Homo sapiens: one gene and its partners. The protein of the gene in region 3 purifies or fractionates together with the protein of the main gene of each other region. This does not show direct contact. Each region holds a gene or a part of one and is shown on either strand. Other genes may lie near its edges. The genes, in order: MARK2, FKBP10, TMCC2 and CMTR1.

Region 1 (6,760 bases), on a different chromosome or scaffold from region 3:
GGCTTGGCCTCTGGGTCCTGCCCTTTGTGTGTCCGGGGTAGTGACCTTAGCGTGGAGTGGGGAGAGGGCAGTTGGGTGTGCTGGCTGTTCTCATTCCTCTTTCCCTTCTTTTAGCAATAAGTCTGGGGTGAGGTGGGGAGGGAGGCTGCAGGGGGGGAGGTGGGCAGAGGGGCCTTACAGCAGCAGAGGCTGGAAGAGAAGCTCTGTCTTCAGGGGCCAGCTGGGAAATGCTAAGGAGCTGAGGGTGCCCACCAAGCCCACCTTCCAGAAACTTGGAGAAATGGGGGTTGGGAACTTATGCAGACATGGATTTATTTTTCAACATTTTTTAAAAATTAAAAAAAATAAAATCTAAGCTTACTGAGTTTTCTTTCCCTTTTGGTGCAAGGGCCCTGGGCTTTGCTTCCTGTCTGTGCCCTGTGGGTAAGTGGGGAGCTGGGCCCACCCAGCACTGGCCCCAGACAGGAATCAAGTCTCTCCTGCAAGGCAGGTGGGCTAGGCCACATCTTGCCCACAGGAGACTGGGTCCCTGCCTGGCTGGGAGAAGAAACAGGAGGAGGCAGCTCAGATTCCAAACATTCTCTTTATTACGTGTTTGATCCAGAGGAGAAACTAAGTGCAGGGTTGGGGAGGAGGGGGCTAGACGGGGAGGGGCCACCTTGCCTGGGTGCCCCGGGCCCCTACCCCCTTTGGGAGCCAAGCCATGCCCTCCCAGCCCCCTCAGAGCACCCGGGCTGTTCCATAGGGCAGGAGGGGGGAAGGGAGGGAGGGGGAGCCCTTGGTCTGAGCCGCAGTAGGAGTGTGGGGCAGGAGGGCTGAGGTTGGCAAGGCCCCTTCCTAGGACGCAAGGGCTCGGCTTAATCGCTGAGCCTGGCCTGGGAGCGGGGGTGATGAAGAGGGGTGGAGTCATCATAAATCAAAAAAAAAAAAAATAAAATAAAATAATAAAAAATAAAACCCATCACAAAAAAATGTACAACTCAGGTGAGGGTAGGGGCAGCCTCTGTGTAGGACTCCCACCCCCAATTTCTCAAGAACAGAAACAGCAGAGAAATAAATTAAGGGATGCAGTGGCCACCACCAGCCAAGCGCCCCAAACCGCCCACGCCCACACTGGCCACTGAGGGTAGCAAGCTGGGAGTCGCTTAGCCTATCTGTCCCCCACCCTGTGGAGGGCAGACGCTCCCGGCCCTGCTGCCTAACTCAGCCTTCTGCCAGGTGGCCCTCGGCAGTGTCTCCTGAGAGGAGGGGGCGACAGTGTCAGGAAGAAAAGGCAAGGCTGAGAGATGAGAGTGGTGAGGGAAGTCACTGCTATGGAGAGAGCTGGTGCCCAGATTAATGCCAATGAAGGGGAAGCCATGGGGAGAGGAAGGGCGAGGGGGCTGTGCTTTCAGACAAAGGCTCCCCCATCACAGAGTGCCCAGTGGCCCTGCTCTGGAGACCAACAGCCCAAGCGGCCCCCTGGGGACCGAGAAGCCAGTCTGCCCTCCAGTCCCCTCCCCTCTCCCAGCCCTGGGGTCAGCCCCTCCTTCTACCCGGGAGGGGTGGGAGAAGATGGCACAGACTTTGAGGGAACACACGTCCCCACAGCAGCTTGTGGAAGGAAATGCCCAGCTCTGGGGAGGAGGGGCAGAGGGTACAGTGTGGAGGGAGGCGGAGCCTTGTGCCGGCCCTCCAGCCTCAGCAGCCCCGGAGCAGCCCCCAGCCCCACCCACTGCAGGGCTGCGCAGCACCCCCGCCCCCTGCCCCACCGCCCAGGCCTCCAGCCCAGGGGCCTGAGGTCAGGGGAAGGCCACCTCTGGTGGTTTGCTTGGAGGGGAAGGAGGGAGGAGAGGGGAGAAGCCCACAGTGGGCCTGGCGGAGGGCCTGACGGGAGCTCCACCACTCTTGCCTGAGAGTGTTCCAGCCCTGAGCCACCCTCCCGGGAAACCCCACAGATCCAGTCTCGACTGTCCCAATGGGGCAGGGAGGAAAGGTGGCCGCTGGGATTTTTTTTTTCTTTTTTCTTTTTGGTAATAAAAAATTTCTTGGTTTAGGCGAAATACTCTGTGCAACCGCAGTACCGAGGGGGAGCCCTGCCCCCCCATCCACCCTCCCCTTCCTTTGCCTCCAGTAGGGGAGAGGAGAAGGGGGAATCTCTGGGCAGGGGTGAATGTGGGGTGCTGGAGAACAATCTCCCACCCCCCACAAACATGTAAGAGAAAACTGAGAAGGGCCAGGGAGGGGAGAAGTGCCAGCAGGGGAGACACACCAATCCATCGCTGCAGTCTCGCCCAGGTGGGGCGGCGCAGCGGCCGGCAGCCCGTCCAGCTGGCCCGCCCCCGCCGCCCCCGCTCCTGGCAGCCTGTTAAAGCTTCAGCTCGTTGGCTATTTTGGAGGCAATGTTTTTGAAGGCCATGGAGGTGCCCGATATCCGCTTAAATCGAACCCCGTTGAGAGAGAGCCGCGGCAGTTTGCACACCTCCATCTCCCACTGCACGAAGTCCTCGTGGCCCGGCGTGCCGTGCATGCACAGCAGCATGTACTTCTCATGCAGCTCGCTCTGGCAGCTGTTCGCGTCCAGCACCTTGCGGATCTCCCGCATCATCTCGTTGGGCTCCATGGAGCTCGTGGTCTTCATACTCCACGTGAAGCGGAGGGAGCGGGGCTTGGCCTCCCGAAATTCTTCCTTTTCTTTGTCGTTGCCGCCACTGCCCACCACGTGAGGTCTGTGGAGAGGGCAGAGGCGGGCGTCACGGGGGGGCTGAGGCACCCCACCCCAGGAGAGCCACCCTGGCAGACAGCCCCTGAGCCCAGAGAGGAGAGCGGGAGGGAGCAGGAGCAGCCAGGCGTGGCCCCTGGCCTGCGGGGGCGGAGGGTGGCAGTCCTCCAACCCCCATCTCTCAGGACAGCGAAGGGGAGGAGAAGCCAGCCTTGGGGTAGGCGGGGTGGGGTCAGGGAAGACACCAGTGCCCTCAACAGCACGAGCACAGACTCTCTCTCCAGAAAGAAGCCTCCGAGCACAGGGAGGTGGGATAGTCCAGGGGTAGGAATCTGTAGCCCCAACCACCCGACCCAGAACTCCGACTTCCAGAATATACCAGACCTGAGGAGAAGGGCCCGTAACTCCTGCAATTGGGTTTGGGAAGGGGAAACTCTCTGAGGAAAGGGAGGCCCCAGAGGGTAGGGACAGGGCAGAACCACGGGAGGAAGAGCCAAGTGGCAGAAGGAAGAGAGGAGCAGGAGGCTGTGGCAAGCCCGGTGGCCCGGGCAGGGCCAGTGCTGGCTCCAGCCCTCTCACCTGAGCGTCTCCACTCGGTCTTTGCTTTCAGGTTCATTCAGGTTCCTCAAAAAACAGAGCGAGGGAGAGTTTAGTGCTGGGATCTCTCGCTCCTTCCGCCGCCACAGACCCAGATGAGAGTGGGTCTGGGGAGGTGCCACCAGTGGGTGGGCAGGACCCAAGCCCAGGGCCCTCTGCCCATCACCTGGCAAGCCAACAGGGCTCTGCAGCACCTCACACTGGCGGCTCAACCATTCCTTTCCAGCAGGGAGCCCAGCACATGGGGCTTGTCCCTCCCCACATTCCCAGATCTGTGCCGGGGAGAAGGAGCCTCTGCTCTGGGGGAGGAGGGGGAGTGGCTGTGCACGCACTTCACTGAGCACACTGAGCACACGGCCCGGCACGAGGCTGCTCCCCCACAGCCAGGGCTCACGCGCTGTTCTGGGGGTTGCAGGTGTGAGTGCGTTTTTGGAGCCACACGCTAGGGTCTCAGGACTGCAGTCCTTTTGGAGGAAAGGGGCTGCAATGCTTTGAATCTCTGTAGGAGGAGGGGCCGTGGCTACGCAAGGGCCTGTCAGGAGACTCAAAGTGCCAAGGCCTGGGTCTGCATGGTAGGCACCTGGGGATGGCTTCCTGCTGCTGAGTGGAAAAGGCGGCCTCCTCCGACCTTTCCCAACTCCCCTACCTGCTGGCCTGCCAGGCCATCTGCTCATACGCAGGGAGGATGAGGGTGGGGTGGGGCAGGGCAGGGCAGACACCTTGGTTGGGTGGGTGGGGAAGAGGTCTGGCCCCGCTGAGCGGCTTCTCCAGCTCCTGGCTGGAAGATGGGTGTCTGGAGCTAGGAAACTGGGGATTGCAGAGGAGGAAGGATATGAGAGGAAGGAGGAAGAGCAGCAGCACATAGAAATAAACAGGAAGACACAACCAACACAGGGGTGCACACAAGCGCACTGCGAGCAGGGAGCCCGGCTGTGCGAGGAAGGCACCCTCCCTGCTCTCTCCAGACCCCCTGTGGGGCAGCCCCCTGCTGGGGCCCCTTGAGGCAGCAGCCAGTCATGCAGTCAACAGCTGGGTGGGAGGAGGAGGGGATAGGGAAAGCCTGAAGACCCTGTCTGGACGTTCCTCCATCAGCTGTGGCACCAATGTGCCTGCCAGGCATCCCAGTCCCAATGCAGGGCCTGAGCAGACAGCCTTGGGGAACAAGCACTCTTAACCTGGCCCTTGGTCTTCAGCTTGGTATTTGGTCCCCGAGGCCTGCAGAGAGGATGAGCATAAGGCCAGGGGTGAAAGAGCCAGGAAGGGGACTGTGAAGGGAGACCCCTGAGTAAGGGTGCAGAGATCTCCTGTTGTTTTGCTACGGCTTGGGGTAGAATGGCCGTTGCCCTAGAATGTCCCAGCTCCCCGCACTTTGGAAGAGACAGGCCATATCTGGAGAAAACAGCCTAGAGGAGAAGAGGCTTGATTTATCCAGATGCTGCTGGTGGCAGGGGTGCTGGGGCAGGGGTGCGGGTGGGTGGGGCTAGTTCTGCAGGAGCTGCCAGGAGGGGGTGCTGTGCTCCATTTGTGAGACAAAAGCTCCTAAGGTCTGGGGGAGCCAGACTGAAACCTTGGGGCCCCAGGGTCCCCGTAGTGTCTCCAAAGTCCTGCGATCCCATAGGCCACGGGGAAGAGGTCACATAGCTCTGAAGTTCAGGAAACCCAGGAGACAACAAACAAGATACCATCCCAGATGCACTTGTAACCCTGGAGCTTCCTCATAGCGCATGCACATGACAAGGGAAAGGGCAGGAAAGGATCCCAACACTTGTGACCAAAACCTGGGGTGAGAGGGAGTGGGGGTGGGGTGGGGTGGGTGAGAGGAGACAATCTTAAAGGGAGGCTTCCCTGAGACAGTCTCCCCTTACTTGAGGACAGGCGTTAACTGTGGGCCCAAGGAAGGCCCTCATTTTTAAAGCCATTTGCCCTGAGTGGGCCAATGTGGCCTCTTAGCCCTGCCTGTTTGTACTGGGGGCACGGAGGGCAGGCCTTGTGCTGATGCCCAATCAGAGGCAGTCTTCATCCCTTTAAGATGGCAGAGAGAGGAGGGCCACACAGACTTGGTTAAGCAGATGGAGGAGAGTAAGAGCCAGAAAAGGGGAGTTAGTGATGGAGGCAGGACACAGGACACAGACACACACACACACACACACACACAGCGGGCTCAACGCCTACCTTCTGGCAAACCTGAAAGACAGATTTCTAAAAAAACAAACAAAAAAAAGACAAAATAAAAAAAGAAATAAAAAAAAAACCAACAAGACGGTATGTGGATAAGCAGGTGGGGGAGGTGGCTTTACAGGTTCAAGGGTCATCCCATTTTCGGAAGAGCCGCTCAGCGAGACTAGAGTCCCAGGCTTTCAGACCTGCCCACACTCTCTGCAGGCCTCACACTTGCATTCTGGGGCTCGGATGGGGCAGTGGCTTTGGCTCCTCCAGCAGAGTGGAGTGAAACGTAGAGGAAGGGCAGGCGAGCCTGTTCTCTCAAAGCCCCTGCTGCTTCCTGAGCTGCTACTCCAAGGCAGGGAGAGGAATGGCAGGATGGGGATGCGGAGCATCCCAGGAGGCCAGCCAGTTGGCTGGATGCACTTCAAGCTGCACCTCTGTGGTGGCTGGGGGCTCAGGTGTGAGAAACCCCGTGAAGAGATCCCCACCCTGGGTCCAACACAGGAAACCTTTGGCACATCGGAGTTAGGTTAGGGAAGAGGCCACTGTAGGCCCTCGCCAGTGATTTCATTTATAGGTTTCACCCTAAAACCCCCGGGCAGAAGGGCATGGCTGCGCCTGCAGCCAGAAACAGAACCAACTAGTGGGAGAGGCAGTCAAAGGGGCAAGAGACCAGGACAAAATTTTCCTTGCTGGCCCCAGCCTGGCTCATGCCTCATGACTTTGCAGCTGCGTCACCAAATATAAGTTTCCATGGGAACCCAGGAGAGAAGGGGGGGCTTTTATTTTAGCATCTGAGTTCACACTCTCCTAGAGAGGAGGCGGCATCGGCCATCTGCTTGGGGCCAGAGAATGAGGGGTGCCTGTGAGGAGTTGGGGAGAGGCCTAAGAGGGGTGGGCCTGGGCACATAAGGTGTTGACAAAGACCTAATTTCTTGTGCTTCCTGAAGCCTCTTCTAACCCCAGGACCCAATACCGGTACAGAGTGTCCCAAACCCCAACCCCCAACCCCCAACCCACCCCGAGTAAAGCAGGAAGGCCTGGCCTGAGCCTCTCTGCCACCCAAAGCTCCTTGCTTACCTGCGTACAAACTTGGAGGTGAACTTGCTGAAGATGCTCCCAGAGGCCCCCCGCCGGCCCTGGCTGTGGCCAGAGGGAGAGGCTGGGGTCACACCGTAGGGCAAATTCTGCTGGTCCCGCACCTGTCGGAGCTGCCCAGCATGGAAGGTGCTTCGGCTGGACACACCCCGGGGGAAGTTAGTTCGGTCTGGGGCTCCACCACTGCTGCTGATGTTGTGG
Region 2 (8,286 bases), on a different chromosome or scaffold from region 3:
TTTTGGAGATGGAGTCTCGGCTCTGTCACCCAGGCTGGAGTGCAGTGGTGCAATCAGCTCACTGCAACCTCCACCTCCCGGGTTTAAGCGATTCTCCTGCCTCAGCCTCCGAAGTAGCAGCTGGGATCACAGGCATGCACCACCATATCTGGCTAATTTTTGTATTTTTAGTAGAGAGGGCTTTCGCCATGTTGCCCAGGCTGGTCACTCTTGGCCTCAAGTGATCTGCCTGCCTGGGCCTCCCAAAGTGCTGGGATTACAGGAGTGAGCCACTGTGCCCAGCCAATTATATACACTTTTAATTTATTTTAAGTTTTCAGAAGTAAAGTGAGGATGGGAGATTTTTTTTTTTTTAATTGAAGGGGCCATGGGTTAAGAAAGTTTTCTGGCCGAGCGCAGTGGCTCACGCCTGTAATCCCAGCACTTTGGGAGGCCGAGGCGGGCAGATCATGAGGTCAGGAGATGGAGACCACCCTGGCTAACATGGTGAAACCCCGTCTCTACTAAAAATACAAAAAAAATTGTGGAGGCGCCTGTAGTCCCAGCTAATCGGGAGGCTGAGGCAGGAGAATGGTGTGAACCCAGGAGGCGGAGCTTGCAGTGAGCAGAGATCGCGCTACTGCACTCCAGCCTGGGGGACAGAGCAAGACTCTGTCTCAAAAAAAAAAAAAGTTTTCTAAGTTGTGTGGGCGCGGGGGCTCACGCCTGTAATTCTAGCACTTTGGGAGGCTGAGGAGGGTGGATTGCCTGAGCTCAGAAGTTTGTGACCAGCCTGAGCAACATGGTGAAACGCCATCTCTACTAAAATATGAAAAATTAAGGCTGGGCGCCGTGGCTTACGCCTGTAATCCCAGCACTTTGGGAGGCCGAGGTGGGCGGATCACGAGGCTGGGGTGGCATGTCTGACTGTGTGACACGTAGACAGACAGGGCCTCCGCAGGGAGCCATGCCCTACCCCCAGGTCCAGCTGGCTGTCTTCTTATAATACCCACCCGCCTTTTTCAAGACCAGTCTGGCCAACATAGTGAAACCCCTCTCTACTAAAAATACAAAAAAATTAGCCGGGTGTGGTGGTGTGCACCTGTAATCCCAGCTACTCGGGAGGCTGAGGCAGGAGAATCACGTGAACCTGGGAGGCAGAGGCGGAGGTTGCAGTGAGTTGAGATTGCTCCATTGCACTCCAGCCCAGGCAACAGTGTGAGACTGTGTCTCAAAAAACAAAAACAAACAAACAAACAAAAATTAGCTGGGCGTGGTGGCATGCGCCTGTAATCACAGCTACTTGGGAGGCTGAAGCAGGAGAATTGCTTGAACCCAGGAGGTTGCAGTGAGCTGAGATGGCACCACTGCACTCCAGCCTGGGCGACAGAGTGAGCCTCCAGCTAAAAAACAAAAAGTTTTCCAAGCTCAACACTCATGAGCTGGGCTCCCAGAGTCCCCATCAGGGATGACATCCCCTAAATCCCAACCCCTGCCTCACTCCTAGCAGTCAAGGGCTCAGGGCTGCACTTCTGGCTACTACCCTATATCTGAATTTGCCCACCAAGCAGACAGGTTTTAAGTCTGGACTGTTTCCTTCTCAGTGTTGTTATGAAGGCTTAAGCTCTGCATTAAGTTTCTACAAGTTCCACAGCATCAGGTCATATGGTTTTCCTCAGGGTCAATGTTAATGTGTGCTGAACTGGCTGGAGGACTGCCAGGCCCTGTGAGAAGCCTACGTTCATTCATCCATGTCCTTGGAGTCCTAACATCAGCCTTAGCAAGTAGGTCCTGTTTTTGTCTCCACTTTTCAGATAAGGAAAGTGATGCCTAAAGAGACAAAATTCTCTGTCCATGGTCATAGCCTGGATTTGAACCAGGGTCTTGGGACTCTTGGAGTTTGTAGGCTTACCCCAATATATGCCTGCCTCTAAAGTCATGGCCACTAATTTCCTGTGGGCTGAGTTGTGTGTTTCAGAGGAGGGTCTAAGAAACACTGACTTCTTTCAGTGTGCTGTGGGGTCTGTGTGTAACTGGGACCCTAGATTTACCCCTGAGGCTGGCATACAGCCCTGCCCTGTCCCCGCTAACAAAAGTGGACTTGCTGGGGCAGACCAAAGGCCTGGGTCAGACCAGGAGGCCACCTTACAAACCCCAAGGCTGGCAAAAATGGGCGGCCTGTGCCTCTGGCCTGGTGTACCTAAAATGGAGAGAGATGAGGGTTCCAGGAGAACCAGAGAGGGAGGAATGAAATTCCTCCAAGGAGCCCAGGGTGGCATGTCCGACTGTGTGACACGTAGACAGGGCCTCCGCAGGGAGCCACGCGCTACCCCCAGGTCCAGCCGGCTGTCTTCTTATAATACCCACCAGCCTTTTTCCCTGCCCACCAGCCGCTGAAAACTCCCACCCCCTCCAAAAAAAAGTTCTATTCCCTCTTCTCTGACCACAAAGGCACTGAAAACAGTGGAACCAGAAGGGGAGTCAGGGTGGGTGGAAAGGTACGGGGTCCAGGCTGATAGACCATCCCAGGGTTCTTAAGCAGCAGGGACCACCCCCTTCCCCCCAACACTGTAGATCAGAACACCCCTCTCCATCAGGTCATTACATACAGCCCTGGTAACTACACAAGGCAGTTCACCTTGATTATCGAGTCCTTTCCGGGATGTGGAGAGCTTGTGAGAAAGAAATGGGATCCTTTGAGAAGTGAGGGTTTGGAAGTGGGGGCAGGAGGGTATCTTTGGGGAGATGGGTGTCTGGGAGGCCCCAGGGGTGCTGTCTAGGGTTAGAGTATTGGGATGCAGAGCTTAAAAGAGGCAACAAGGAAACAGGACCCCGGGTTCAGGGGACGGAGTGGTGAATCCGGGGGCGCCCAACCGGGGTTACCTTGAATCAAACTTCTTGCCATCTTCAAAAGTGCCGTTGTAGTGGTAGCGCACAAAATCCCCCATCTGCACTTCCCGGGGACAGGCCCTGGGGATGTGGTACCTCTCGATGACCACATCTTCCAGGGGGCCCCCGGCCGGGCTGGCGCGGCCCAGCCCCCTCCCCACGGCCTGCACCACCAGTAGCAGCAACTGCAGCAGGGGGAGCCGGAGGAGGCTGTGGCTGGGGGGGCCCGCGGGGAACATGGTGCCTGGAGTTGGGACCGCCGGCAGTGAGGGCGAGCGAGGGAGTCGCCACCAACCTCCTTCCCCCCGCCTCCCAGAACTGGCTCCCCCTCTTCCTGTCCTCTTTCCCTACCCCCGCCCTGGCTGGTCCACGTGGAATGGGGGCTGGGAAGACTGAGCTGGCCTGGCCGGGAGGAGCGGGGGAGGGGGTTGCAATAGGAGGAGGGGGCCAGGCTGAGTGTGTTAGAGTCTGAGGGAGGCACTACAAAGAACTCTAGGTTCCCCCTCCCCCCATCTCCATCCCTGGCTGCGAGACCTGGGGCCTGGCCAGGGAGAGAGGCTCGGGAAAGATGAGAACTCTGAGTGGACACCAAAGGAAAAAAAAAAAAAAAAGTTCAATGACTTTTTCCGGAGCCCCCGGGTCCTAAAGCCGGGCGGAGATGAACCTTGCTTCTTTCGCGGGCACTTCGAATTCTAGTCCCCTCCAGGTGGGTGGTGAAGCCGCGGAGTGTGAGAGGCATCTCCGTGCTCATCCGTGACCCCAGCTGTACTCCAAGGGAAGGCATCTCCAGGGAAGAGCAGCTTGGTCCCGCAAAAGCTGGACTGAAAGAAGGACTTTGTGACTTGGGATGTGACGGGCACGGAGATGGAGTGGGGGGTGGTGGCAGCGCAAGGTGTGCAGGTGACAGCAGGTGTGTGCCTCCGACGTGGGCGGGGGAGACACTCGGAGGGTGCAGGAGGGCGCAGCGACGGAAGGCCCGGCTCCAGGGCTTCCTTCTCGTATGGGCAGCGCAGAGGAGGCGGCCCTCACTCAGTGTCCTGATCTCAGGCGGGGGCACTGTTTGCATGGGGAGGGGCTTCCTGGGCTTCCCATCTCTGGCGGGAAGCGCTCCCCGACGCATTCTCTACCTAGGGGACACCCCCAAGGCAGGAGCCCGGGCCGACGGAGAGGACTTAACGACACTATCGGACCCTCTGGGAAAAGAGGGGAGACGTCGTGACCCAGGCCCCGCCCCACCTTGCCGCCTCGTGCCCGGCGCTAAGACCCAGCGGGCGCGCCGCCCGCCCGGGGCCCGGCCCTGTCCCCTTCCGTCCGCGGGGCAGCCAGCTCAGCTCCGGAGAGCCGGCGGCGCGGCGGGCATGGCTCGGGTGGCGTGGGGGCTGCTGTGGTTGCTGCTGGGCAGCGCCGGGGCGCAGTACGAGAAGTACAGCTTCCGGGGCTTCCCGCCCGAGGACCTGATGCCGCTGGCCGCGGCGTACGGGCACGCTCTGGAGCAGTACGAGGGAGAGAGCTGGCGCGAGAGCGCGCGCTACCTGGAGGCGGCGCTGCGGCTGCACCGGCTCCTGCGCGACAGCGAGGCCTTCTGCCACGCCAACTGCAGCGGCCCCGCGCCCGCGGCCAAGCCCGATCCCGACGGCGGCCGCGCAGACGAGTGGGCCTGCGAGCTGCGGCTCTTCGGCCGCGTCCTGGAGCGAGCCGCCTGCCTGCGGCGCTGCAAGCGGACGCTGCCCGCCTTCCAGGTGCCCTACCCGCCGCGGCAGCTGCTGCGTGACTTCCAGAGCCGCCTGCCCTACCAGTACCTGCACTACGCGCTGTTCAAGGTGGGAGCCCGCCCCCACCCGGGGACCTGTCTCGGGCTGGGCGTCGTGGCTCCCCACAGATCGGTCGAAGGAGCGTTATCTTCACCCAAGGCACGAAGCCCGCCGTGCGCTCGGGGCCGCGAGCTCCGGTCTTGCTGACCCGCTCCCCCACCCCCTACCCCCCGACCAGGCTAACCGGCTGGAGAAGGCGGTGGCGGCGGCCTACACCTTCCTCCAGAGGAACCCGAAGCACGAGCTGACCGCCAAGTATCTCAACTACTATCAGGGGATGCTGGACGTCGCCGACGAGTCCCTCACGGACCTAGAGGCCCAGCCCTACGAGGTGGGGTGGAGGGTCAGGAGGAGGCTTGTAGAGGAGGGCTAGTAGAGGAGGGGAGATGTTGGGGGCGCCCTGACTCCCCCTGCCACGCCCCTTCCAGGCCGTGTTCCTCCGGGCTGTGAAGCTCTACAACAGCGGGGATTTCCGCAGCAGCACGGAGGACATGGAGCGGGCCTTGTCAGAGTACCTGGCAGTCTTTGCCCGGTGCCTGGCCGGCTGTGAAGGGGCCCATGAGCAGGTGGACTTCAAGGACTTCTACCCGGCCATAGCAGGTATCTGCCACCCAGACCACGGTGGGCGGTCCTCTCACCCACAGGGCCCGGTAAGGCAGATGTCCCCTTCATGCACGTGGAGCACTGCGAATGCGGAGGAGCCAGCCGGGAGGAAGGCCTTGTCTGTTGAGAAAGACGCTGGGTGCAGGGGCCCCAGCTGGGAGTGTCCAAGGGGCTGGATCAGTGAGTAGAGGCAGTGACATCCCTAAAGGGTTTGGGAAGCTTGGGTTCATAGGCCTTCCAGGCAGAGGGCAGTGCAGATGCAAAGGTGCAGCGGTGAGAAGTAACCCAGCAGATGTGTGCAGAAAGCAGTTGATAACCAGAAATTACACCTAGTCTTGGGATCTCTAACCCTGGGGTCCCTCGAGCAGGGGCAGAAAGGACTGTACTTGGCCAGGTGTGGTGGCTCACACCTGTAATCTCAGCACTCTGGGAGGCCGAGGCAGGCAGATCACGAGGTCAGGAGTTCAAGACCAGCCTGACCAACATGGTGAAACCCCGTCTCTACTGAAAGTACAAAAATTAGCTGGTCGTGGTGGCGGGCACCTGTAATCCCAGCTACTCGGGAGGCTGAGGCAGGAGAATCGCTTGAACCTGGGAGGCGGAGGTTGCATTGAGCCCAGATCGCGCCACTGCACTCCAGCCTGGTCGACAGGGCGAGACTCTGTCTCAAAAAAAAAAAAAAAAAAAAAAGACTGTCCTTTAGCTTCTCTGTTTGGACTTCTGCCCCATTTCTGGACCTCACCTGCTGCTCTCCCAGAATGCCCTGGCTCCCTCTGGCTTGGGGTGGTGGTTGAGTGGCAGGGGTGGTGAGTCAGCCCAGCCCACAGTCATCTTCCTCACCATCACTTGTCATATAGTATGCCAAGCACTTTACAGACATTCTCTCCTGTGATTGCAACAGCAACACATTTTCTGGACAAGCAGCTTGGCTTAGTAGGCAGAGATTGGATTTAGAGTCTTCTCCACTGGGGGGACGGAGATGTTCATTGCAATGCCAGCCTCTCACTGCTGCCTCCCACCCTCAGATCTCTTTGCAGAGTCCCTGCAGTGCAAGGTGGACTGTGAGGCCAATTTGACCCCCAATGTGGGTGGCTACTTCGTGGACAAGTTCGTGGCCACCATGTACCACTACCTGCAGTTTGCCTACTATAAGTGTGAGCCCCCTGGGTGGGCTGGCTTGGGCAGGGGACGAGGTGATAAGGGAGAGGACTGTATGGGAGCCTCCCAGAGTTGTGGGGAGCTTTCCTTCAGTATTGAGGACCCTGGGTGATAGGAGGAAAGTCTAGGGGTGGTGGGAATATGGGGAAGGCACCCTGGGAGTCTGGGGCAGGTGAGAGGCTTCTGAGTGAGAACAGACAGCAGCCTCAGGGAGAAGAAGAGGGTCTTTTGGGCAAATGACTAGACAACCAACAACTGCAGAGCACTTGACAGTTTATTTTTATTTTTGAAACGGAGTTTCACTCTTGCCCAGGCTAGAGTGCAGGGGCACGATCTCGGCTCACTGCAACCGCTGCCTCCCGGATTCAAGTGATTCTCTTAGCCTCCTGAGTAGCTGGGATTATAGGTGCCTGCCACCACACCCAGCTAGTTTTTGTATTTTTAGTAGAGACGGGGTTTCACCATGTTGGCCAGGCTGGTCTTGAACTCCTGACCTCAGGTGATCCACTGCCTCAGCCTCCCAAAGTGCTGGGATTATAGGCATGAGCCACCATGACCGGCCAACACTTGAGAGTTTATAAGTCACTTTATCTTATGTGGTCCTTTCACCAACACCATGCAGCTGGCATTACTGGACCGATTTTTCAGATGGGGAAACTGAGGCTTATAGGGCAAGGGGCTGTTGGTCTTATGACTAATAAAAAGTGGCACCAGGACTTGTGGCTCTCCTCACTGGAGAGATCCTGGCATCCACTGGGGCTGGAATGGACAGCCTCCAGTGTTCCTGCAGCTCGGAGATGCCAAGATTCAGACAGAGCCAGGAGTCAGAGCAGAGGGGCTGAGAACCCAGGGGCCAGGAGACCCTTCCTGGGTACACATAGCAGAGAGGCTAAGGGCCTCTAATTCACTAGAGCCATCATTCTCCAGCTGTGTGAGCTTGAGCAATTTATCTAACCTCTCTGTGACTCAGATTTCTTGACTGTAAAATGGGGATGACAGTAATAGGTAGGCATGGCTGGGCACAGTGGTTCACACTTGTAATCCCAGCACTTTGGGAGGCCCAGGCAGGCAGATGGCTTGAGCCCAGGAGTTCGAGACCAACCTGGGCAACATGACAAGACCCCGTGTCTACAAAAAATACAAAAAGTTAGCCAGGCATGGTGGCGCGTGCCTGTAGTCCCAGCTACTGGGGAGACTGAGGTGGGAGGATTGCTTGAGCCCAGGAGGCAGAGGCTGTAGTGAGCCGAGATCACACCACTGCACTCCAACCTGGGTGACAGAACAAGACCCTGTCTCAAAACAAACAAAAACATACAAAAAATTAGATGGGTGTGGTGGTGCCTGCTTGTAATCCCAGCTACTCAGGAGGCTGAGGTGAGAGGATCACCTAAGCCTGGGAGATCAAGCTTGAGGTGACCATAATTGCACCACTGCACTCTAGCCAGGGTGATAGAGTGAGACCCTGTTTCAAAAACAATAAAAAGACAATAACAGTGAGGCTTAGATGAGTTAGTCAGGGCCTGGCATAGGGTAAGTGCCCACTACATGCTAGCTGGCATTATGCTTGGGTGGGATAAGGAGCCCATTAGGTATTCTGGGAGGTGGCTGGGTAGCAGGGGTGCTGGACTGAACTGGAAGATGGAGTTGACTCTGAAGGGGAAGTGCCAGAGCAATTCCTCACCCCTGTCCTGCTGCAGTGAATGATGTGCGCCAGGCTGCCCGCAGCGCCGCCAGCTACATGCTCTTCGACCCCAAGGACAGCGTCATGCAGCAGAACCTGGTGTATTACCGGTTCCACCGGGCTCGCTGGGGCCTGGAAGAGGAGGACTTCCAGCCCCGGGAGGTG
Region 3 (7,349 bases):
GGTGGCTCGGTCCCACTTCTCCCAGCCAGGATGATCCAAAGGCTAAATGGAATGGAAGGGCCCTGGCTTCAGAGAGAGGATGGGGCAGGACCTCTCCTGGTACTCAGCAGGGAAGACACTGGGGGCACGGGTAGGGAACAAAGGAACAAATAAATAAATAAATAGAACCCAACAGCACTCTCAGAGGCCTAAGGGCTTAGGGTGAGGCTCAGGGGGGCCCTGGGGCCTGTTTCCCTGAAAATAACAGATCCAGTACAGGCAGAAAGAACAGAAGGGAAAACACAGGCCACACCCACCTGGCCTGCAGAGCCCAGCCCCAGAAGGAGGCCTCAAATCAGCTCTACAGGGAGGAGGGGTGGGGTGGGGATGCTGAGCTCCACACTAGCTGCTCTGAGCCTGCTCTCTGGCCCTGGAGGTGCCCGAAGGCTAGGGACCCTCCCATCCCTGTGTTCTCTGCGGCCAGCAGAGCCTCCTCCCTCACTCTCCAGCCTTCATCCTCACCATCTCCACCAGAGAAAACCGTAGCTATCTCCGAGGTGGGCTCTTTCCTAGGAAAGTTGAGGCAGAGCCCTCTCCTCCTATTCTTAATGGTCTTCCTGACTTGGGGCATCCTGAGGGTCAGCTGGGAGAAGTCCTTGTGTAACTATAAATAATCAAAACAATCCAACCCCATGTCCACCTCTGCTCCACTTGGCCACAGGTGCCCGCACTATCTCCAGGTAGGGCTGCATTCTAAGCTCCCTTCAGGCCAACAGGGAGAAGGTGTCAGACAGAAGCAAGTACAGAGAAGGGGGCAGGAGCTGCTGGAATGGACAGTTTGGGCAGGAGGCCAAACTGGACACACAAAGAAGTCCAAGGGTCCCTCCTGGAGAAGTGTGGCCAGCTGGGGGCCAGAGAGCACAGGGTTGGTGTGGCTGGCCACTCAGCTGGGCAGCAACACGTGCTCCAGGAGGTAGGTGAGGGAGTCCCAGTGCTTCCAGAGGAGGAACAGGACGAGGACCAGGAGGGTGGTGCTGGTGATGCGCAGGCGTGTCTTCATGAGGGGCGTGATGAAGTTGGCGATGGTGGACACGAACACCAGCAGCACGGCCATGAGCGCCAGGATCACGTTGATGAACTTGCCCAGCAGCGCCCGCGCGTTGGCATTCTCCACGCCCTCCAGCTGTACCACCTGCTGCTGTTGCTGCTGCAGCTCCAGCTTGGTGACCCGGGTCAGGCAGGACTCCACGGCCTCCTGCAGGGGCAGAGGGGCTGGCATGTGTGCGCTCAGGATGGGCAGGACCCCTAGGCTGAAAACCTACCTACCCCACTGAGAAGGTGCCTATAACGAAGTCTCCTCTCCAAAGGCCAGGAGGAGTGGAGGTTGACCAGCTGCAACTGGGGTCAGAGACCTTTAAGGATGACTCTTTGGGGAGGATGCTAGGAAATGAGAGTCTTGATTACTAGGGAAGGAAAAGAGCTGGCCCAATCCCAGCTGGCTCCCTCTTGAGGCAGGCTGGAGCCTGGAAACTCCAAATACTCATTTGCGAAGCTGCCATCAAAGAGGTGGGGGGCATGGTGGCCTCTGCCCTGTGGGCTTGCCTCTGCACAGTGCACGCTGTCAGCCTCAGGCCTGTCTTGCTCACTCCACTCCGCTCCCGCTACGCTGCCCTCTTCATCCATGTGCCTATCGGCCCCGGCCAACAGGCCAGCCTGTGTCTATCATGCCCCACGTGACAAGAACCCTAACCCTCTGGCTGCTGCCAGCTCTACCAGCACATCTGGGGCCTCCCAAGGTTGCCCTGGCCATACCTGGATGTCCCGTGCCCTCTCATAGGACTGGTAGGCCACCTTCTCCTCCATGCTGGCCAGCTCCTGCTTCAGGTTCGTCATCTCGTTCTGATGAAGCTCAGTCAGGTCGTTGAGCTGCTCCTCCAGCCGCTCGTACCTGGCGGAGGGAGAGAGAGTGACACCAGTCCTGGCTCCCCGAGCTTCCACTCTCTCCCACAGTTGATTCATTCATTCTCTCAATAAACAATGACTCAGCCCATCCCCCGTGTCCAGCTCTGCTCTGTTCTAATTTTAACAGCAACAACAATAGAAGCTACTATTTACACAGCACTTCTTAGGTGTAGGCACTGTGCTAAGCATTTTACCTACATGACCTCATAGGATCCTCCCCACAATCCCATGAGATAGGTGCCAGTGTCATCTCCATTTTACAGAGGAGAAGACTGAGGCGTGGAGGCTGAGGAGCCTGCCTAGGATCACGCAGCTCATGAATGGAGGAGTTAAGGATTGGCTGACTTCAACCTGGGCTCTTAAGCCCTAGGCTCAGATGCTCTCTGGGTACCAGGGACACATGGGTGTAGAGGACACAATCCCGGCTCTGAAGGCACAAAATAGCGTAAGATGACTGTTATGTGAGGAGTGGTTAGCTTTTAGGTGGGGCTCCCCTTCAATTTTCCAAGCCTTCTTTATATATATGGAGAAGAAAAAGAGAAAGTGCTAGCTAAGGAAAAGATCCCCCCACAAGCCCAGGGAGCGAGCGGCAAGTGCTGCAGAGGCACAGAGCCAAGGGCAGAAAAGGGCAGCACAGGACCGGAGGGAGACACAGAAGGAGAGGCCGAGAGATGTCAGCTCTGTTCCAGGCTGGCCCCAGGAGCTCCGACTGGAGGTTCATGTTTTGGAAGCTATACATCCATTCACATGCTTCGACTTTACAGGTCTGGACTCATTGTATCTTTATGACCCTATGAAGAAGGAATTAATGTCATCCCTGAATTGAGGTCAGGAGATCGAGACCAGCCTGGCCAACATGGTGAAACGCTGTCGCTACTAAAAATACAAAAAATTAGCGGGGTGTAGTGGTGCGTGCCTGTAATCCCAGCTACTCAGGAGGCCGAGGCAGGAGAATCGCTTGAACCCAGGAGGCAGAGGTTACAGTGAGCTGAGATCGTGCCACTGCACTCCAGCCTGGGCGACAGAGAGACACTCCGCCTCCAAAAAATACAGAAGGAAAAAAGAAAGAAGGCTCCTTAGGGCCTCGTGCTGGCTCCTTCCAGCAGCCAGGAGGCTGAGGATGCTCCTCTGACTGCCTCCACACCCTGGGTCTGAAACCCAGTGCTCCTTGCCTCATCCCACGTCCGGCTGGGCTGCAGGAGGGGGTGGGCAGGCACCTACCTGTAGCGCTCCTCCTGCAGGCACTGGGTCATGTAGGTGTAGTCCCTCTGCAGCTGAGTCTTCAGGTCTTCCATGGAGTCCTCCAGGTGAGACTGTCCCTCCTTGATCTCCCGTAGCTCTTCCAGCAGAGCATCCAGGTTTCCAGGAGCACCATACAGTGCATTGGACTTAGGGCTCCCCAGCGCCCCACCAGGCCCAGCCCCAGAGTTGCTGCCTGCCCCGGCTGAGCTGGCGCTGGCGCTGGAGCACTCATCATCGCTGCCATACTTGGGGCTGGAGACGAGTGTGGCACTGCCGCTCAGTGCCCGGGCTGCCTCCTCAGGGGGCCCATCTTCCAGGGGGTCCTTCAGGTGGGCGATGTTGTCAGCACTGCCAAACTTGTTGCGGATGAGGCTGGCAAACTCCCGGGGCTTGGACACCACGGCGGTGTGGGTGGCCTGTGAGAGGCCAGAGAGGCTGCCCTTGACGCCCTCCACCACGCCGCCCCCAAAGCCGCTGATGCCTGCGCGCACGTTGGCGCCCACGTCCTTCAGCCCCTGCTGCATGTCCCGCAGCACGTCCTTGGGCTGCCGCGAGGGCCCGTTCTGCTCAATCTCCTTCAGGCGCCGGCGGTAGTGCTCCAGCTTCTTGTGCAGCTGGGCGATGGTCTGGGCTGACTTCTGGTTCTTCTTCTCGAACACTTGCTTGATGCGTGACACCTGCTGCTTGTCCGCGTTGTTGGCCAGTTTCAGATACTCTGCCACATTGTCGTCGCGAGCCTCCTGCTCAATCTTGATCTGCTCGGTGATCTTCAGGATCTTCTGGTGCAGGTGGTCAATGGCGGCCTTGGTCCGCTGGGGGTCCGGTGCCCCATCGGGCACGTCCAGGCTGATGGGGCCGTCGGTGTCACCATGGCCGGCGGGGAGGCTCAGGGCCACCAGGTCTCCCTTATCGACCTGGGGAAAGAGGCAGGCAGAGGAAGCATGGGTAAACCCTGGGACCATAGGAGTGCCCCTGGATGCCTCTGGACTTGGTTTTTCTATCTAGAAAATGGATGCAGGAGTCCAAAAGAAGACAACCACCACAAGAGCAGTATCCCTGACAGCCACTTACACAGGGCTTTCACATCTGCTCTCTACCCCGTCCCCACAGCATCCCCAAAATGCAGTCTAGGCAGAGCTGCTCCTCTTTTGGCCCAGAAAGGTCAAACAAGTTGTTCAGGGACACACGGCCAGGAAGGGACAGAACCTCCAGCCCAGAACTCTTTTATTTATTTGTTTGTTTATCTATTTGAGACACAGTCTCGCTCTGTTGCCCAGGCTGGACTGCAGTAGCGTAATCTCAGCTCACTGCACCTTCCACCTCCCTGGTTCAAGGGATTCTCCTGCCTCTGCCTCCCGAGAAGCCAGTATTACAGGCACCCACCACCATGCCTGGCTAATTTTTGTATTTTCAGTAGAGATGGGGTTTCACCGTGTTGGCCAGGCTGGTCTCGAACTCCTGACCTCAAGTGATCTGCCTGCCTTGGCCTCCCAAAGTGCTGGGATTACAGGTGTGAGCCACTACGCCTGGCCCCAGCCCAGAGCTCTTAAAGCTCCAGCACATGGACCAGGCAGGTCTGAGGCCTCACTGGAGTCATGGGGTTGGATTTCTGAGGAATGAGACAAATTTTCTCTCTGGACTCAACCACTTCATAAGGCTCCTGCCTTGAGCAGGCCTCTCCCTCAGGGCTGACCGCCTACACTTTGTGCCCTGCCTGCCTGCCCTCGCCACCCCATGTTCACTAACAACGCAGCTCAGCGGGCCACCCTGCCTCTGCTGACACCTCTCCCAGGCCCTCCATTACCTTACGGCTCTCCAGAGTCATTGGTAACCTTTTCCGCTTCATAATGGTGGAAGCCCCCAGTCCTTCCTAGTATCCGAGAATTGGGAGAGGAGCATGCCCCACCCCCACCCTGCTGGCCAGGTCCCCGAGGACTAAAGCCCCAGAAGTAACTCAAAGGCCAAGGGAAGCAGGGACCAGTTTGGGGGCCTGAGGCTACTAGCCGCCCAGCTTTGCAGAGGGTGAATGCGTAGGAAGGAAATGACAGCCCCCTTCACTCCCCACCAGGCGGGCAGGCTTCCCGAGTGCATCAGGGTGGCACCAAAGTCGGAGAGACAAGGAAAGGAGAAGAGAGACTAAGAAAGGATGATGGGGAGGGAGAGAAAGGAGGAAAAGGTCACAGGAGATAGGAAAGATGGGAAATGTAAGGTGGGCTGAAAGCGGGGAGGCCTGAGACCTGCTCCCCTGGTGCCTGGTTCCTCTCAGCCTGTTGGAGGATCTTTCTGTCCACAGCTGAGTCCCCAGTGTCTTATCGCCATACAACAACGGAAGCAGCAGGAAATGGCTCAACCCCATGTATTTTTACACACAGCACACCCCAAGCAAGGCTGGGTCAGATCATTTGCCCTTAGTATGTATGGGAGGGGGCAGGGGTGTGGTCAGATATATGTGGGGGAAGGGGTTAAACACAAAGATAGTGGCCCAGTCACATGCACCAGAACTGGAAACAGTCCCTGCCAATTACAGGCATAAGTCACTTGGCTTGATTCTGCCAAGGTGCAAAGTTATTGGAAAACACGATTGAAAATAATAGCCCTGCCAAACTCAGGAGCCAGGGGAGGGCGGCTCCTCTGTGGGCTTCCACTGGGGCTTTTCCAGGTTACACTTCCCCCTGGGGATGCTGTGGACAACCACAACCCCATCCCTAATCACTCCTGAAGTCAGGACTTCCCTCTTATGTTTGCTTTGGGTCTCCCCTCATCCCCCCTTGACCTCCCAGCAGGTGCTCATACCTTCAGGACTCTGCTTCTCAGAATTTCTGACCTTTCATACCCACAGTCTCCCTTAAGTGATCTGCTCCAAGGTCTTAACTGTCCCAGTAGCCTGACTTAAAACCCTAACCTGCAATTAGGCTGCTTCTTCCTGCCTTGTTCCCTGCAGTGACAGCAAAAAGCCCATCTCTCCATTTTCCTGACCTTCAGTGTCCTCGCCGACAAAAAGCGGGTAATCACAGCTACTCTCAGGTCTTTTGTGAGAGCTATACAAGATGACGTCTGGCAAGCTGGCATAGTGCGAAGCATACAGAAGGTGCTCATTAAACGCTGAATCTGAATCTAGGCAGCGTAATCCCTTTTTTCCCCTGGGAGAAAAAATGCCTGCAATCAAGCTGGCCTAAATTTATTTCAGAAATTATACCAACAAATTTACTCTGTATTGCTAGAACTACACAAAATTAACGGTTTTTTTTTTTTTATTTGTTTTTTGTTTTTTTTTGGAGACGGGGTCTCTGTCGCCCAGGCTGGAATGCAGTGGGGCCATCTCAGCTCACTGCAACCTATGCCTCCTGGGTTCAAGTGATTCTCCTGCCTCAGCTTCCTGAGTAGCTGGGATTACAGGCATGAGCCGCCACGCCCGGCTAATTTTTTTGTATTTTTAGTAGAAATGGAGTTTCGCCATGTTGGCCAGACTGCTCTTCAACTCCTCATCTCAGGGGATCCACCCGCCTCAGCCTCCCAAAGTGCTGGGATTACAAGCATGAGTCACCGCGCCCGGCCCAAAATTATGTTTTATAGGCAACACATGGCCTTTGATGTTACAGAACTTTTTTTTTTTTTTTTTTTTTGAGACAGAGTCTCGCTCTGTCGCCCAGGCTGCAGTGCAGTGGCGCAATCTTGGCTCACTGCAAGCTCCGCCTCCGGGGTTCACGCCATTCTCCTGCCTCGGCCTCCCGAGTAGCTGGGACTACAGGCGCCTGCCACCATGCCCGGCTAATTTTTTGTATTTTTAGTAGAGATGGGGTTTCACCGTGTTAGCCAGGATGGTCGCGATCTCCTGACCTCATGATCCGCCCGCCTCAGCCTCCCAAAGTGCTGGGATTACAGGCTTGAGCCACCACGCCCAGCCCAGAACCTGTCTCTCTTATAAAGCTGCTGCCCTTTCCACAGATGCCCAGCTCTCTTTCACTGTCTTCTTGGGAGAAAGAATATCTAGAAAATGGGTTCTGGGGCCAGGTGCAGTGCCTCATGCCTGTAATCCCAGCACTTTGGGAGGCTGAGGCGGGTGGATCATGAGGTCAGGGGTTCGAGACCAGCCTAACCAACATGGTGAAACCCTGTCTCTACTAAAAATACAAAAATTAGCTGGGCGTGGTGGCGGACGCCTGTAA
Region 4 (7,349 bases), on a different chromosome or scaffold from region 3:
CAGGCAGTGGAGGCAGGGGAGTAACAAATGACCCTGCTGTGTCACTGCTGCTTGAGGGATTTCAGGGTGACACCAGTAAGGGTGAGATCTGACACCACGGGTGCCCATGGCAACACTGCAGCCACTGAAGAGTTAATGTAACCTCTACATAAGCACACCCAGAAGGAGACTGAGTTCTGTGAGCACCCGCACACCACTAAGAATATAAGGACGCATTTATGCCCCTTCTACCCCTCCAGGCTCAATTTCTCTCTCAGCAGCGGGAGCTGGGATTTATGGTATTTCAAGCAGCTTGCTGCTCTGCCCCTCGCAGGGCCCATCGTAACTATGACAGCATCAATGAGCCCGTATTTCTGCCTGACACAGCCCGCCTGGCTCCCTCCTGATAGGATGCTGAAGCAGCTGTCAGCTGGGGGACTCTTGACTGCAAGCAGTGCTGCAGCGAGGCAGATGAGGTGAGGGGACCGCTGGAGGCAGCTCACCACCCCCCGCCCCCGACCCATCTTATGAAACGGAGGATGACTACAGGACACGGCCGCACCCCCACCTCCTCTTGAATCTGAGCTTCACCGGTCAAGTCACTCACCTGACAAAAATCTTCTCCATCTCTTCCAGTCTGTACACCTCCTTCACCCTGCAGGTAGAGGGACAGAGACAAGACAAAGGCTTCCTGGGGGACATTCTCATCCAGGAGGCAGCTGGGAGGCAGGAGACTGCACTTGACCTTGGCTTCTGCCCCAGGCCCTCCCTGAAACCACCCAGCCCACCGGCAGCGAGGACACCAAGCCTGCCAACATGGCTGTTCTACACAGACAAGCCCTGGGTTTCAGAGCTGCCAAGCACCTCCTCAGGCCTGCGTCAGGGCAACTGGGGAGTGAAACTGGATACTGAAGACAGGAGGGAGAAAGAGGAAGAAAAGTCTGGCAGACAAAGATGTCTCTGTCAGCATTCCCACCCCCAAGTCATCTTCACCATCACCAGAGGGCAGAAAACAAAGGAGTAGGCTCTTGCCCAGGTCTGTCCACATGGATTTTAGGCCTTCCATAACAAGTTACTGCTAAACAGTCCTAATAGTCCTATTACCCACAGCGGGTGGGGAAACCCTAACAAGAATGCAGGGCTCTTGTTTGATGCCCATGCTCAGCTCTTGGGGGCCCTGAACATGTCTTTGGAACTGCTAGTGGGGAACGTTCCCAGAAATCGAGCAACCAAACCACAAGCAATGAAGGCAGGGTTCCCCCTGGGAGCTGTCTTTCAGGACCTAGCAGACAGGACATTTTAAAGTGCAGAAAGAAATTCCTTTGAAACTTTCACATGCCATCTATAAAGTGCATTCTCAATACTGGATTTAATTTTAACTAAGTAAATTTATGTTAAAAAGAACAAAAACAATGTGGATAAAGTGTAAATAGATACCTCAGTCTCCAGCCGCATGAAGCTCCCGAGAGCAGGGCTAAGCAGTGCCCTTTGGCAATAACCTCAGACCTCAGCCTACCCTGGAAAAGTGTGTCCTCCATCTGTCTCCTCCTGACTCTGTTCTCTTCCTCCTTTCTCTCTCAGGGTCCTGGAACTTTCCCACTATCTAACATTACAACCCTGGCCTCCTTCTCCCTCAGCACTGGGGGTCCCATTCCCTCAAACAATCCTTCTCTTTTTCATGTTCAAAATTCCTATTCCCTCAGCACCCATTTCTTACCTGAAAAAAAATTAAAAGGCCAGGTAATGTGCTAACAATGCTCAAGTGGGAACGGGTATTCATGAGGTGGGCTGGCACTCTCAGAAGCACGTGCATCCTAAACAAGGATGCCTTAACCCCTCAGAATGAAGTTCACCCACTGCCAGGCAGGATGGGGAGATGCTCTGGGGCAAGTCACCTACCTAGCACCCCCAAACAAACTTCATGGCAAGAATGGTCTTGTCTCTAACACCCACTTGCCTAGTGCCCTCCACTGAGCCCTCCTGTCCCTCACTGGACGGGAGCAGCAGGTACTGGCCAGAAAGAAGCATGGAGGGTAGGGACCACATGCTCACCTGATGGGATTCATGTCGGGCCGACTAGGCTTGGAAACGGCTTTCACAAATTTCTCGGCAAGCTGAATTCTACAATCCAAACAGTCTCTCTGAGAGGCAAGCCAAGGATGCCTCCACCAGCACCCCTACCCCCAGGGCATTTTCACAGCTCCAGTAGGAGAACCTTCTGAATCTGCGGCAAGACTGCTCTAAGAGGCAGCACCCATGTCCCCCAGGAAGCCCGCCCTGCCCTTCTCCACCGACGTCTTTATTCATGCCCCGCCCCTGTGGATTCTGACCTCTAATTTCACTATGTCGGTTGGTTTTCCTGAAGTGTGCCTTCAGCTGTGCTCAGTCACCTCCACTAGAACTTCAAGTATCATCTTTATTGTATGTGTCTGCCCTGTCACCCCAAAGCATGGAAACTACAGTGCACCCACTCAGATGAGCAACTTAAATGGGACCACTCAAGCACAGGATATTTCTTCCAAGGAGTACCCCCTCTACCCGCAAGGTCACCCTCTTGCTCAACCTTAACATAAATACCTCAACCTGAGCAGCTGTGGCAAAATGGAGTGTGCTGGTATCTCTGATAACCAGGGCCCAAGCCCTAGCAAACTCTGAAGTGGCAACTCCAATTCTCACCCTGACTTTGGGACCAGTCAGTGGGTGGGAGGGGGAAACTCTCAGGATGTCAACAAGCAGAGAAGGCCTAGATAAGGGGCCACACCTCGGGAGGCCGCTGTCCTCCCAAGCTGCCCTGGCCTACCCCCACCCTCCCTACCCTGGGGCCCAGGTCAGACCGCTGGTTAAAGTGCTGCTCCCGAACGTCGGTGCCATTCAGCACAAGGACATCGAGGATGTGGATGGCACTGATCTTCCTCTGGGCCTTCCCCTAGAAGGATAAGTAGGTACACTGCCCACTCTGCCAGGTGTCAGCCTTCAGCCCCCACTACCCACCATGGCATGCTGGCTCCATTCTGCCTACAGCTGGGGGAAGGGTAGGGCTCTAAATGCAGGATATTTTTCTTGTCTCCCTCCCAGCTGCTCCTCAGCATCAGACTGGCCTCGGCTTCTGAGCAGGGTAAGATCCAAGGCATTGGGTGATAAGGCCCCTTGAACCTCAAACCCAGTGAGGCTGCTGCCATGGCACTCCAGCCAGGATCTGGCTTACCCCCCTTGCCAGTTGCTCCTACTGACTGTTCTGAATGTCACCATATAGATTTCATACTCATGGCTCCTGAGAAACAAGTCTCTTGTTTCCCAAGGGATCTCTGGTCAAAAACTAAATCAGCTGCTAAAAAATACCCAGTAGACTCACCAGGGCCCTCAATGCACAGAGACAATCGAGGTCTCCTCTGACGCACGGAGACTGCGCTCCTCCTTACCTGAACCACTGTGGCTTAGAGCAACTGCTCGGGGAGGAGTCATTATAAACCCTTACCCCAGCCCTGGGCCCTGTCAGCCACCACACAATGTAACCAAGTTAACTCAGGGCAAAAGGCCAGGTTCAGCAGCCCCCTAGTCCCCTAGCTGCAGGGCCAACACCTGAGCAGAACCATCTCTGACCTCCCCTTTCAGCTCATGCACAATTTCCACAGATAGCAGAGTGTCCCGGGGCAGCTCTGTCTTCAGGTCTAGCTTGATCCAGCGGTCTGACTGGCGGCCATCCCATGTGTAGATCTGGGATTTCTACAGGCAGAGAGAAACAGCCAGGTAAGGAAGGCATGGAGATCGAGGGATAAGAGGCTTACTTCTCAAAAGAGCTTTTAGTTGGCAGCTACAAACTGATGGGACTGGGAAATGTCAGAAGAAAATGTCTATGAGAGATTAAATCCATTATACTTTAGTGATAATGATAGTAGTGTTCTCCAGTGCCTCAGCAGAAGAGAAGCAGAGATCTGGCTCAGCCTTGGAACGGGTGCAGGGCACCACTCAAAAGACCTAAGTCCATAATTAGTGGCCCTCAAAAAAGATCCAGTTTCGTATATGTCTAAGGTGGGTTTAGTGAAGAGTCCAGAGAGCAGAGAAGGAGAGAGTAAGTAAAATGAGAAAAAGACAAAGTGTGAGAGGGTACAAAAGAAGTAACTGAGGAAGACAGGATCAAATTATATAGAAACACAAGTCAAGAGTTGAAAGAAAAAGCAATGACTTTACCCAGTTAAGTAAGATAAAGAGCTTGCCAAGGCTTTCCCTCACCTCACTTTAGACTCCAGGGGGCCCAGGGTAGGGACAGGGAGTATCTTTGCAAGACAGGGGATGGGATGGCATGGGGTGGTGGTGGTGTTGCAAAGGAATGGCTGCCTGGGCTCAAGCCAGATAAGCCTGCTGACCACTCTGCTAGCCTGGGAAGCTCTGTATCACAAGAAAAGTAGCAGTGTTCCCTTTAGCAATGCACAGAATTGAAGAAACAAATGAAAGAATGAATGAATGACACTTGGCAAACTCAGAGGAAGAAAGGAAACGAAGTTTCAAGAAATACCTTCACTAGGGTCAAAGCAACAGCTACTTAATGCCAAGAGAACATGTACCAAGTGTGGCAGGCAGCTGTCCAGATTCCGCAAAGGGCAAATCCACCATTCCAAGCTGGGCAGGAAGCCAGCTGCAGACTTACCCCCAGGCCGATGAGGAACTTCTGCTCACTGCCAGATACCATGCAGCGGTAGTCAAACACAGGGCGGATCTTCTCCAGGGTTTTAGAGGTGAGCAGTGTGGGCTTGTAGCTGAAGATGTCAATCTCAGTGCCCTGCAGCCACGAGTCAGAGAAAACACTGCCGGGTTGGGGGAAGGGACAGTATGGGTGCCTATCTGGGCTGGGGGCAGGCTCGACAAGGCAAGGGACAGGAAGCATTGGCTCTCTGAAATATGCTCCCCTGCACCCCCTTCTCTACCTAACTGTGCACTAAATGGGATCTATTTCCATCTGCTTGGAATGTTCCTGTAGGACCTATTAGGAGAGGCTGGAAAAGGAAAGAACACTGAGTCCCCAAGTACAGATCAATTTACCAGACCTATAAGAAAATGTCACCAGAATATAAAAGCTGCCCCTTCAATAAAACTCAAAGCAAGGATTCTCCAGCAGTTGGTTTGAGAACAGTTTAGTGATCTCTTTACCCCATTTAGAAAAATGTACACATACTATTCTTTTGAGGGCATCTTGAACCTCAGTCTCTACTCCCTGACCCCCACAAAACCAGCACAATTGCCCATGATCTGGGACAGATTTAAATGAGGCCCAAGTAAAAGCTGGAGGTTGAGTGGTAGAAGAAACAGGGCAAAAGAACTCTGAGGACCAGCTCACCAGAAATAAGACAAAGAACCTGGGGTTAGGCCAACCCTGCTGCGGGCTTCCCTGGCAGCTCCCTTCACCCTGTGCCCAGCTCCCTTGCCTAAGATCATCCCACACTCTATGTCTCCTTTGTAGGCAAATCCCACAGGACCCTGAACTTGCCAGGGTGACACAGCCAGAACCACCCTTTGGGTGGCAGGAATGCTGAGCCCAAGCACTGAACATGAGAATCTTCCGTTGGCCTGACTGTGCTCTTGGGGAATTCAACACCCTATACCAAAGGTTCCCACCTGTGGCAGCCTTAGCTCCGCCCCTTAGAGCCCATGGTGGGCATCTGCACAAGCCCTCTGGAGACCATGCATCTGGGGCCTCAGTGATACCATCCACATCTAGAGACAGATCTCTAACTTTTTATGTCCACCACAGATACCAGTCTTACCTGGATTAGCTCAAAGAACTTCGATTTAGGGTCGGAGGAAGAAGGAGCCACACGAGCCTGGTCTGGGATCTGAAATAAGACAGCAAAGAGCTTTGACTTTCAAATGCCCTTTTGACCAAGACCGTGTATGAGTATATGCAGGTGGAGGAGATAGGGTCAGACTGGGGAGGAGGAATGGCACACAACAAAGGAGGCTAGGCTGACAGGGATGGAGGTGGATAATTCACTCACTGCTCCCTTTCAGATCCTGTGGCAATGGACCCCAAAGGCTACTTCCTTTTCTCTGGGGCTCTCTGTTGTCAGTGCTGCTACAAGGGGCCACCAGTTGCAAAACTGACACCGGCCCACCTCCCCACACCCCACCCCTTAGTCCTTTCTGACCCAGCTGCAGGGCCAAACCAGCAGTGAAAGGGCCAAGGACGTAACTACCAACAATGCCGAGATGTCAACCTCTGGGATGCTGTGAGGGTAGCAGATATTTTTGGATGCAGAGACACCCTAAGGTGACAGGATTGGGAGTCAACCCCATTCTTCTCTATGGCTTCCCTGCCCTGAAGCAGCAATGGGCGGGGGAGATACTCACCCCCCAGAGTCGGAGGCACTCCTTCCGTATCTCTGCCTGTCGAGGCTCACTCAGTGTCCTGGGAATATGAAGCCAGTTAGTGATTAAAATCTCTAAGAGGCACAGGAGTGCCCCCTGTGCACCCCTCATATCCCATAGAGAGGAGGCCTGAATGAATGAACATGTGAGTGTACACACAGACACTATGCTGCCACTGGCCCAGCGTGATTACAACACATGCAAGGCTCTCCTTTTGAAGACAGGAGCTCAAACATACACGAAATGGGATTACCTGCCCTTCTCACCACAATGGGAAAGGAGAAAGTGCCCTCCAGACGACCTGGATGCCAGGGTCCTCCCCGACACCCTTTTCAATCACCCATCAGCATGTTCTAGCTCCTCTTCTGCTGACACAGGCCACACTAAACCCATCCCACTGGATGTCACCATGCCCCACAAAGCTGAATTAGCTTATGTTCACCCCCTACCCGAGGTTTCTCTGATCAGTCCTACCTCTCCTCTCTTGATCACTCTTTACTCTGTGTCCCCTGAACATTATGTATTCTACTTGTGCCATGCCACTCTACACCCTCTGATGCACTGTTAATAACCTTTCCTGTATCCTTTTCCTGGGTTACTCTTATCTGCCCAAAGACAATGTAAAGTATTTGGGGACAAAGCTCATGTCATATGCTTCTCTGGCATCCTTCAGAGACCATAGCAGAGTATGAGAAAAAAGCAGGTGTTTTAAAATGTTTGTTGAAATGAAAAAAACAAACAGCTTGTGGGGAGGAAAAGCAAGATCTTCCCTTGAAATAGGTGGTTTCTGAAAAGTGGGCAACACTCACGTGTCTTGAACAAAGGCATGGATTTTCGCCAGAGCTTTGATCTGCAGACTACAGTGGCTAGAAGAAAAAAAAATTATTTGATCTCAGGATTACCAAAAAAGACAGGTAACTGACATCAGGACAGAGAGGTTAAACGGGAGCAGTGGCCATCTATATTTGGTGAAGGAGCTGGAGAGTTGAGAAAGAAACCCACACCCCTAC

The links.
Region 1: the proteins of TMCC2 (region 3) and MARK2 purify together in Homo sapiens (affinity purification with mass spectrometry; 2 studies listed by BioGRID and IntAct, with this or other methods). This does not show direct contact.
Region 2: the proteins of TMCC2 (region 3) and FKBP10 purify together in Homo sapiens (affinity purification with mass spectrometry; 2 studies listed by BioGRID and IntAct, with this or other methods). This does not show direct contact.
Region 4: the proteins of TMCC2 (region 3) and CMTR1 purify together in Homo sapiens (affinity purification with mass spectrometry; 2 studies listed by BioGRID and IntAct, with this or other methods). This does not show direct contact.

What each region holds. Positions count from the first base shown.
Region 1 is NC_000011.10:63,904,825-63,911,584, reverse strand, and holds the end of MARK2 (serine/threonine-protein kinase MARK2), read right to left. Parts: coding exon 6,542-6,760; intron 5,498-6,541; coding exon 5,471-5,497; intron 3,326-5,470; coding exon 3,281-3,325; intron 2,709-3,280; coding exon 2,348-2,708; 3' UTR 565-2,347; downstream 1-564. UniProt on the Homo sapiens protein: Serine/threonine-protein kinase. Involved in cell polarity and microtubule dynamics regulation. Phosphorylates CRTC2/TORC2, DCX, HDAC7, KIF13B, MAP2, MAP4 and RAB11FIP2. Phosphorylates the microtubule-associated protein MAPT/TAU.
Region 2 is NC_000017.11:41,807,856-41,816,141, reverse strand, and holds the start of FKBP10 (peptidyl-prolyl cis-trans isomerase FKBP10 precursor), read right to left. Parts: upstream 3,139-8,286; 5' UTR 3,108-3,138; coding exon 2,863-3,107; intron 1-2,862. Other genes in the region: P3H4 (endoplasmic reticulum protein SC65), read left to right, coding at 4,227-4,688, 4,858-5,010, 5,108-5,462, 6,308-6,436, 8,138-8,283. UniProt on the Homo sapiens protein: PPIases accelerate the folding of proteins during protein synthesis.
Region 3 is NC_000001.11:205,265,698-205,273,046, reverse strand, and holds part of TMCC2 (transmembrane and coiled-coil domains protein 2), read right to left. Parts: intron 4,098-7,349; coding exon 3,163-4,097; intron 1,928-3,162; coding exon 1,792-1,927; intron 1,252-1,791; coding exon of another isoform or gene 1,235-1,251; coding exon 923-1,234; 3' UTR 1-922.
Region 4 is NC_000006.12:37,470,877-37,478,225, reverse strand, and holds part of CMTR1 (cap-specific mRNA (nucleoside-2'-O-)-methyltransferase 1), read right to left. Parts: intron 7,206-7,349; coding exon 7,149-7,205; intron 6,380-7,148; coding exon 6,322-6,379; intron 5,808-6,321; coding exon 5,739-5,807; intron 4,757-5,738; coding exon 4,625-4,756; intron 3,703-4,624; coding exon 3,580-3,702; intron 2,906-3,579; coding exon 2,814-2,905; intron 2,101-2,813; coding exon 2,032-2,100; intron 635-2,031; coding exon 587-634; intron 1-586. UniProt on the Homo sapiens protein: S-adenosyl-L-methionine-dependent methyltransferase that mediates mRNA cap1 2'-O-ribose methylation to the 5'-cap structure of mRNAs.